Linked DNA regions of Homo sapiens. The protein of the gene in region 1 purifies or fractionates together with the protein of each later gene. This does not show direct contact. Each region holds a gene or a part of one and is shown on either strand. Other genes may lie near its edges.

Region 1 (5,114 bases):
CCAGGACTCCCCCAACCCCCAGGGCTCCAGAGGCCTGGCCTAGAGTGGGATACCGGGAAGTTAATGGGGGCACAAAACCAAGTCAGGGACTGTCTCATCCAACTGGTCTGATCTTGGCTGTGCTCCCTCTCCAAGAGCCCCCAACAAAATGCCCCTCATCCTAGGAGCTGCCATTGAAGGAATGCTCAGATTTCTTAAGCCTCCTGAGGGTGGGAGTGTCTGAGGGGGCCTTCATGATGGGCTTCTCCAGGAGAGAATTGCTTTTTAACTAGGACTTGCAAAACATTAAACTTGATTCAATTAAATTCAAGTCAACTCAACAAACCTAACTCCACCAGTAGCCCTTCCAATTGACAGGCTGTGTGCTGGGCGCTCAGGAAATGATGGAAGGAATGAAGGGCTAATGGAGGAACTTAAGGCGGAGAAACAAGGTGGTGGAGGGGTCCCCACCCAGTCCCTTACCTCATCTCTTGCAGGGCCTGGAGCAGAGTCCACTGTCCATGGAGCAGGGCACCGACCTTGGCAGAGTCCTGCAGAGGGGCAGCCTCTTGTCTAGGGCCCAGGACATAGCCCCTCTCTTCTCAGAGCCCACCTTCCCAGCGGCACTGCAGCCTCTTCCTTCCAGAGGCCTTCCCAGATTACCAGGGCCTCCTTATTTGGACACACTGTGTTTCTCTGACCTCATCCATAAGGGCATCCACATTCCCCCTCCACTCACGCCCCTCTCCCCAGGGGTGGTTGTTTCCTCCCAACAGTGGCCACTTCAGGGTTTTCTCAAAATACTTCTCCCTTCTTATTTATTTATTTGAGATGGAGTCTTGCTCTGCGGCCAGGCTGGAGTGCAGTGGCACAATCTCAGCTCACTGCTACCTCTGCCTCCTGGGTTCAAGCGATTCTTCTGCCTCAGCCTCCCAAGTAGCTGGGACTACAGATGCATGCCACCACGCCCAGCTAATTTTTGTATAATTTTTGTATTTTCAGTAGAGACAGGGTTTCACCATGTTGGCCAGGATGGTCTCGATCTTTTGACCTTGTGATCTGCCCGATGGTGTCAGTCTTTTGACCTCGTGATCTGTCCGCCTTGGCCTCCCAAAGTGCTAGGATTACACGCGTGAGCCACCATGCCAAGCCAAAATACGTCTCCCTTCTAAAAGTGGTTCTGTCCCCTGAAGGAAGCAGAGGCCCAGCCCAGTCCTCTCTGCCCTGGTTCTCCCAGAGCACCAGCCAAGCTGGGGCCAGTGCTGGTCAACACCCAGTGTTTGGGTCCCTACCTTATTGAGTGACATGGAGAGGTGGCCACCCCTCCCTGGGGTGGATGGAATCTGGCAGGAAGCATCCAGGGCCTGGGGATAGGATCAGAGAGGCTTGGCCCTGGAGTGTAAGTCCCCTCCCCTCTTCCCCACACTAGCAGCCCAGCCTAAGCTGCTCTGACACAAGATTAAAACCTCGAGCTGTCAGAGCCCAGCAAAGCCCACAAGAGCTGCTGGCCTCCTCTGCCCAGTATCTAACACCTTGGCTGAGTTTAGCTCTCAGGCCCCCAGGCTGGGCATGACCCGAGTTATGACTCCCTGGGGGAGGAGCCAGATGGCAATGGAGATGCAATGAGGCTTCTGGTGCAACTGAGCATTAAGCAAGCCCTATGCAAATCGCATGTGAAGCTACATGCAAATTAGCACCTAGTCTATTTCTGTCATTCATCTACAGAGCTGAGTCCAAATAGCTGGCATCTCCTCTCCCCAGCCCCAGCCTCAGCCCCAGCCCCGTGCGCATTTGCTTGTGCAGAGATGCCATCCTGCATGCTGCCCTGCCCCATCCTGTGACCTGCAGCATTTCATCCCTGCCTTCCTTTCCCTCCAGGCCTTAGGGGAGACTAGTTGCTGACTACAGTGCTTGCTCCTCTTTCAGGCCCGCAGGTGGAGCCTTGGATGCCTGTAGGGCTTCTCACCCAGCCTCCGTCAGGCCTGGCTTGGCCTGGGGGCCCCAGCTGCTTCTTCCATTGTCTCTCAGCCTGGGCCAGCTGCTTGGAGAGACCCCGCAGAGCCTGCAGGATCCGGCGGTGTCTGCCCAGCGTCTCCTCCAGGTCAAAGAGCCTTTCCCCTGGGGATTAGGGCAGAGCTGGGATGGGCAGCCAGCCATGGTGGGGTAACACAGCCTATCTTATCTTTGGGGTGGCTTCTTGGAGAGGGGTGCCAGAAGGTGTGGCTGCTGCCTCCAAGACCCTCTCCTGGAAGATGAGTCTGAGTGGTAAGGTGGGGATAGCACAGAACACTTGGGCCCAGGGCCTGCTTAGATGTGGCCTCCTCAGGCCTCAGTTTCCCTACTGATTAAAGGACCCCTGGTCATAAGGGTGGAGGATGCTGTGACACTCAGATGGGCGCCACCTGCCCGCTCTCTCGGTCCCTACCTTCTCCTTGAGCTTCAGAGTCTGATTTTGGAGTTACATCCTCCCTGGTGCCCAAGCCCAGCCTTGCCCACAGCCCTTCCAGCTGCCTCGCCAGGCGGAGCTGCTGCATCTCCAGGAAGGGCTGAGGGGGAACCTAGGGGAGGAAGACAGAAAGTCGGGCCCCAAACCCATGGGAGATCCAGAAGCAAGGGGAGCCTTCCCACAGGCTTCCCCACGAGCCCAGCCTTCCTCCCTGGCCAGCTGGCCCTGCAGTTTCCAGCCCTCTGAGTTCTGCCTTCACGCAGATCCCCACCATCTTCCCTCCCTGCTGTGGCCTCAAGCCTATATGTGCTGGTCCGAGGCTCCTTTAAGCTCATCTCCTCCAGGCAGCCTTCCTTGACCCCCTGGCTGGTTGGGACTCCTCCTCTGTGCTCCCACAGCCCCCTGCACCTTTTGAGACCTGGCACTGATCGCTCTGAACTGTAATGTCACAGCCTGAGCCAGCCAGCCTGCGAGACCTCACACACCGGCCCTGGCCCGCAGCACTGCCCTGCACAAGGTCTGGCCTGAGCAGAGCTCAGAGGCCAGGTGGAGGTAAGGGCTGGAATGGCAGGTCTGAGGGCACCATGACATGGGTGAGGGCAGGGTCCCTGGGCTGCCATTCCCAGGTAGGCCAGGGCTGGCATCACCTCTGGGCTGGGCTCACTCAGGCTGAAGGTCAGGAAGGACAGGACATCATGATCATCTGGAAGGGGACAGATGAAGGAGAAGTAAGACCCCTCCACCCAGCAACCCCCTCGCTCAGCCTTCACCCTAACCGCCATGATATCCCACCGAGGCAAGAGGGGTGACTTTGGGCCACCGTCTGATGCTTGTCTTGCTTACTTCCTAGGAAAGGTGTGAGGGTTGACAGGTAGACGGGTGGGTGGTGAGGGTTGAACCTCACACTCAGTCAGAGGCAGGCCCCTGTGGCAGAACTGGACGATCCCAAAACATCCTGGGCTAGAGCCATGGCAGCAGACCATCTGACACTCTTAGGCCCCCAGAGCACAGCTGCTACTGGTAGTAGCAACTGCACAGTGGCCACCTTTCCAGCATAGCTCTGACCATGTCACTCTCCTCCTCAGAAACCAGACCAAGGTCCTGGCATTCAAGGACTCCCACGCTCTGGTTGCCCTCAGCTTTCCCGCTGTGGGACCCTCCGTGGACTCTCCATGGTGTCACATTTCTTTGCTCCATTTTCCTAAATGCCCCTCTTTGCTGTCTGTCTTCCACTTGTCCCGCAACTCACAGCTAGGGGCACTTATGTGGCCAGCACTGAAATCAAAGCTTCTCTTGTTTTATCCCATTTGAGACTTGCAAGTCTCAAGGCAGACATGACTTCTCCCAAGGGTCACAGAAGCCCAGGTCATGTGGTGAAGTGGCTGACGCCACCCCAGTGCTCTTTAGAAGGTGTGCTGAGGGTGATTTATTCATCACTGCCCTTCTGCTCTTACCTGTCCAGTGGGATCCTCACCTGCCAGGGTGCCGGTGGCTGCTGAGACCCCAAAGAAACCTCCAGGGACCAAAAGCAGGGGCCCCACATCCACACAGAACTCACCTGGATCACTGGGAGTGAGGCCACTGTTCAAGGACATCTGAGGGACATGGAGAGAGTGAGCAGTGGGGGGGTGTCCCTACCTCTGACTCCCTGGCTCCCCTGGCCGTGGGATGGCAGGTGGCCCTAGGGCTTGGTATCAGAATGGCATGGAGGTGACCCGCACTCCTGGTCTCATGTGAGCCCTTACATGTATGTGCTCTGGGTGAGTGTTAGGATTCTGTGTAGGGATGGAGGATCCCCTGTGGATGTTGGCCCGTGTGTGCCAGGGACCTCACGTGGTGTCACAGGCACTGGTGTGTTGGGGCCGTGGGCACGCACACATAGCAGCTCTGTAACTCAGAGCCCTGTCAGAAGCAGGAAGGGTGACTCACGCGCAGCCTCTGCCCCCAGTAGGTGATCCGTGCTCTGAAGGGGTGTGGCCGGTTCCGGAAGTCCCAATGACAGGAGCCCAGCCCTTGGCTAGCTCCATCCCTGTGGGCAGTTTGTTCATTTGTTTGTTTTTGAGAAAGAGTCGCTGCCCAGGCTGGAGTGCAGTGGTGCAGTTGTGGCTCATTGCAACTTCTGCCTGCTGGGCTCAAGTGATCCTCCCACCTCAGCCTCCCAAGTAGCTGAGACTACAGGCATGCACCACCATGCCCGGCTAATTTTTGTATTTTTAGCAGAGATGGGGTTTCACATTGTTGGTCAGGCTGGTCTCAAACTCCTGACCTCAAGTGATCCACCTGTCTTGGCTGCCAAAGTGCTGGGATTACAGGTGTGAGCCACCATGCCTGACTCTTGTGGGCAGTTGGAATCCAGCCAGGATATACAGGACTCAAGGCCTGGACAGTGAGGGCAGTCCCAGAAGCCACTCTGCCCAGATTTGCTGTGCCACCTCCCTTTCCGCTGGGCGAGCTGGCATGGGACATGTACCTTGTCTAGCTTGAGTCTCCCTTGTTGTACCCTGCTCCCTTGGCAGAAGAGAGAGGAGCAGGGGAAGCAAGCCCTGCCTGACGGAGTGTTGGGACTTGGATTTACAGAAGGGGCCAGGGGCCTCCCTGTGGCCCTTCCTTAAGGGGACAAAGGCCTGGACCAACAATACAGTTTCTGCCCTCCATTCCCCCGACCCACCTATCACCCTCGTCCTATCAC
Region 2 (4,332 bases), on another chromosome or scaffold:
CACAAGAAAGGTTATAATTTGACTTTACGGCAACACAGCCCATTTCGAAGCAAGTAATGTCTCTACTACAGTATGGAGAACCATCTGGAAGAAGGGGAGTTGCTATTAGGTGCTTCTTTTTCTGATTATTACTTCTCATCATGCTCAAAAACTGCTCATCAACTAAAATGTATGCTGCTCCTCATGTTCTCTCTACTACTAATTCGGGTATTTTAAAAGCTATCTTTTTTTTTTTTTTGCCTCAATTTTGTCTTCCTCAACACTAATTGCAAATTGCTTTCCTTTTGTAATAATAAAAAGAGAAAGCAAAAATTAGTTTCTTTTATGTGGGACCTCACAGGATAAATTAAAAAGAAGGGCAGTGTGCAGAAATAAGTGAACCTGGGTCCAAGACTGCCATCTTTAGCAAGGCTTGTTTGCAAGGTTGGCCCTTGGCTGGTATCTGACAAGCTGGCTGATAAAACAAATCCCTACACTGATATAAATACATTCCCTCAGTGATAAGAATGGCTCACTGTGCCTCAACTGTTTGTATAAATGATGTGATTTATGTTGAACACCTTTCCTTCTGGAAATCTAGAAAAAGTTCTTTATGTTGCCAGTATCTAAAATTTCAAGATGATATCCCTTACACAGGTCAATTTTCACCCACTGTAAAACTGCTATTGCCACTCATCTTTTTATTGCAGCACTAAGCAGACCCTCAATCCAGAAACCAATGTCCTTCAGATTAGAAAACTAGAGTTCAAAGATGTTAAGTGCCATACAAATAGTAAATGACAGGCCAACAAAATTCTTTAGGGCTAAATTACAAATACATGGCTCATTATAAAACTGTCTCTTCTTCAGTGATATAAACTTATTTTTATTTGCCTTAATCCCTGAACTCAATCCCAAAGCAGATTGTGGCCTTATTCTTAAAGGTGTACTGTACTTCAAATCACAAGCTGATTGGTTCTGGTCAGGTGCAGTGGCTCACACCTATAATCCCAGCACTTTGGGAGGCTGAGGCAGATGGATCATTTGAGGTTAGGAGTCCGAGACCAGCCTGGCCAACATTGTGAAACCCCATCTCTACTAAAAGTACAAAACTTAGCCAGGCTAAGTAATCCCAGCTACTTGGGAGGCTGAGGCAAGAGATCACTTGAATCCAGGAGGCAGAGGTTGCAGTGAGCCGAGATGGTGCCATTGCACTCTAGCCTGGGTGAACAGAGGAAGACTCCATCTCAAAAAACAAACAAACAAACAAACAAACAACAACAACAACAAAAAACAAGCTGACTGGATTTAGACTAAATACAAATGTATGTAGGCAAATGCTTTTTTTCCTTACCCAATAAGGTGAATCCTTATTATCCAAGGGAGAATGGAGTCAGGCTACTTTATTTTAATCCTCACTTTTCCACTTAATACTGGAAGGCACTGGGCAAATAATTTAACCTCTCTAAAGCCTTATTAGTTTGCTAAATTGTAAAATTAAGATGGTGAAAGTATCTATTTCACAGGTTGGTATGAGAAGTAAATAGTGTAATTATAAAACATAGCACAGTGCACAGTGCCTGGTACCTAGCAAGTACTTCATAAAAATTAGCTATTGCTGTTGCTATTAATGATATAAAACTATATAATACACTGCATCATGGTTACCTGACTGTATGTATTGTCTCCCTCACTGGGTCACAGGGACTATACACTTTTGTATTCTCAGAGCCTGGAACACAATATACTCTCAATAGCTTTTTTTTTTTTTTAATGTCTAAATCCTTATAAAGAAAAAAAGGGAAGAAAAAGATCTCTAAAATGTTACTCTCCAGTTTAAATTTAGCAAATGTAAACATGGTCAAAATGATCTCACTTGGTTCTTATTCACAGAATTTCTTTAAGGGATGGAGGGCAGACAGAAGGTATAATCATAGCTACCATTTCCTGAATGCCTAACATGTGCTACGGATGTGCTAAGTATTTTATATACACTATCTCACTTAATTTCCACAATAACTCTACAAGGTAAGAACAGTTAAAATCCTCCTTTTACAGATAACACTAAGGGTTTAAAAAACCTGCCAAAGGTGAAAGGCAGAAAGTGGTAAAGCCAGGACTCAAAACCCATGCTCTCTCATTATTCTACACTGCTTTCCCATGAAGTGCAAGGAAAGGAATTATTAGCCATCAAAAACACAAAGAACAGGAAACAAAGAGATCCCTGAAGTGACAGCTATACATTGTATCTTGATTCCTAACAAGCTCTAGTAATAACATTTTAAAAACCTAAAAAAAAAAAAAAGATGTTAATCTTGAATAGGACCACAAAACTCACAGGGTATCAAAAATGTTGAACCTCCCCCCCCAATGTAAAACCAACTGCAATTTGGCTGAAAACAGAGCTCAAAAAGTACTATCTTAAAGAAATTACTCCCCTACACCACCCACTGAAGAGATAAAGACAACTTTTTTTTGAGACAGAGTCTTACTCTGTCACCCAGGCTGAGCGCAGTGGCGCGATCTCAGCTCACTGTAACCTCCGCCTCCTGGGTTCAAGCAATTCTCATGCCTCAGCCTCCCGAGTAGCTGGGATTACAGACAAGTGTCATCACAGTCAGCTAATTTTTGTATTTTTTAATAGAGATGGGGTTTCACCATGTTGGCCAGGCTAGTCTCGAACTCCTGGCCTCAAGTGATCCACGTACCTCAGCCTCCCAAAGTGCCACCACACCCGGCCAAGATAAAGACAACTTTTGTCAGACTAACACACCTGATGCCAGAGCTGGCTGGCTAACCAGTTCAAAGAAAACAGGCATTTGATAGCTTTAATAGAACATTATGAAGAATCATTTCAGTTACGTTTCTCCACTGCACATTTGAATAATAAAAAATTCTACAAAGACACTTCACTGAAGGTATGGCATCAGGAACTCCATAAGTGCTTAGGAAGGATATTAAACACAACTCAGGTCTGAAGGATATGTAGTCAGTACAGGAAGGCATTTTCCAAATTAACTCATTTGAGGGAATACAGCCTTCTGTTCCCATGCATCTCACCACACTCAAAGGGATAGGGTGGGATCAAAAAAAGAGACAAAATAAGCCAGGCACAGTGGCAACATGTTTATAACTTCAGCACTTTGGGAGGCCAAGGTGGAAGGATCGCTTGAGTTCAGGAGTCTGAGATCAGCCTGGGCAACATAGCAAGACTCCTCCGTATCTACAAAAAAATGTAATTTAAAAAATTAGCCAGGTGTGGTGGTGCCCACCTAAAGTCCCAGCTACTTGGGAGACAGAGGCAGGAAGATGGCTTGAGCTCAGGAGGTATAGGCTGCAGTGAGCCGTGATTGTGCCACTGCACTCCAGCCTGGACAATAGAGTGAGAATCCATCTCAAAAAACAAAAGGACAAAATCCTTGGTCATTAGGATATGTCCAGCAAAACAAAATTGTTTTGAGTATGACACATGAACACCTTCAATTATCTTATTTTAATCACAGTGAAAACAGAAGTTATGCAGTGATATAAAAGACCTGAGTGGATTGCTTCATAAAGTTCCCTGGCTTGATAATAAGACTCAAAGGATTCCTCAATTCACACTGGAGAGATGAAGAATTACCAAGGGTGAGAGTGGTGTCAATGGTGACCCTGTTCTGATTTAGACAGAACTGAGCATGGCTTTAAGAAAAATAAACTTTTTCTCTCCTTTATCCCAGTTTAGAAAGTAGACAGAAGCTGCAAAGGGGGAAAGTAGTAGGAGATGAGGCATCCGAGAGAAACCATTTCCTAGTTATTAGGCTAAAGAACTTGAACTTTATTCTGAAGCAGGCAATGGAGAGTATTTTAAGCATGGGAATAACAATCAAATTTACGTTTTTTTTTTAAGTCATTTTAGTGGCAACCTGGCAGATGATCTGGAGGGGAGTAACACTGGACATAGAGATGCAGATGGGGCCTGATGTAAGTGCAGAGCCTCAATGCTCAACAGAGCAGCAGTAGGGGGACTGAAAGGGAGTATTCTGAGGTAGAATTGGCAGGACTTAGTAACAGACTAGTTATAAGGAACATGAAAGAGAAGAGACAGAGATGACCACCTACTAGAATTAGGGCTTGGATGACTTGTTGGAGCCATCATGTCATTTTCCAAGAAGAAGAATACAGGAGGAAAAAGGATAAATACCCATTTGTATATGTGGAGTTCTAAACTAAAATAAGGAGATAATAAAAACTGATGGCAAACTCAGAAGCTGAGATTACAATTTCAGTTGGAAATATATAGTGCCTATATCCCCCCCACACACACATATTTAGCAAGAAAGGAAAATGTTCAGTTTGGGAAGAAAATGATGT

Evidence for each region. The genes of interacting proteins can lie anywhere in the genome.
Region 2: the proteins of LMAN1L (region 1) and SPCS2 purify together in Homo sapiens (affinity purification with mass spectrometry; one large-scale study listed by BioGRID and IntAct). This does not show direct contact.

What each region holds. Positions count from the first base shown.
Region 1 is NC_000015.10:74,818,058-74,823,171, reverse strand, and holds part of LMAN1L (protein ERGIC-53-like precursor), read right to left. Parts: intron 4,455-5,114; coding exon 4,355-4,454; intron 4,021-4,354; coding exon 3,900-4,020; intron 3,129-3,899; coding exon 3,073-3,128; intron 2,538-3,072; coding exon 2,405-2,537; intron 2,098-2,404; coding exon 1,946-2,097; intron 1,344-1,945; coding exon 1,272-1,343; intron 531-1,271; coding exon 463-530; intron 1-462.
Region 2 is NC_000011.10:74,958,455-74,962,786, reverse strand, and holds part of SPCS2 (signal peptidase complex subunit 2), read right to left. Parts: intron 1-4,332. UniProt on the Homo sapiens protein: Component of the signal peptidase complex (SPC) which catalyzes the cleavage of N-terminal signal sequences from nascent proteins as they are translocated into the lumen of the endoplasmic reticulum.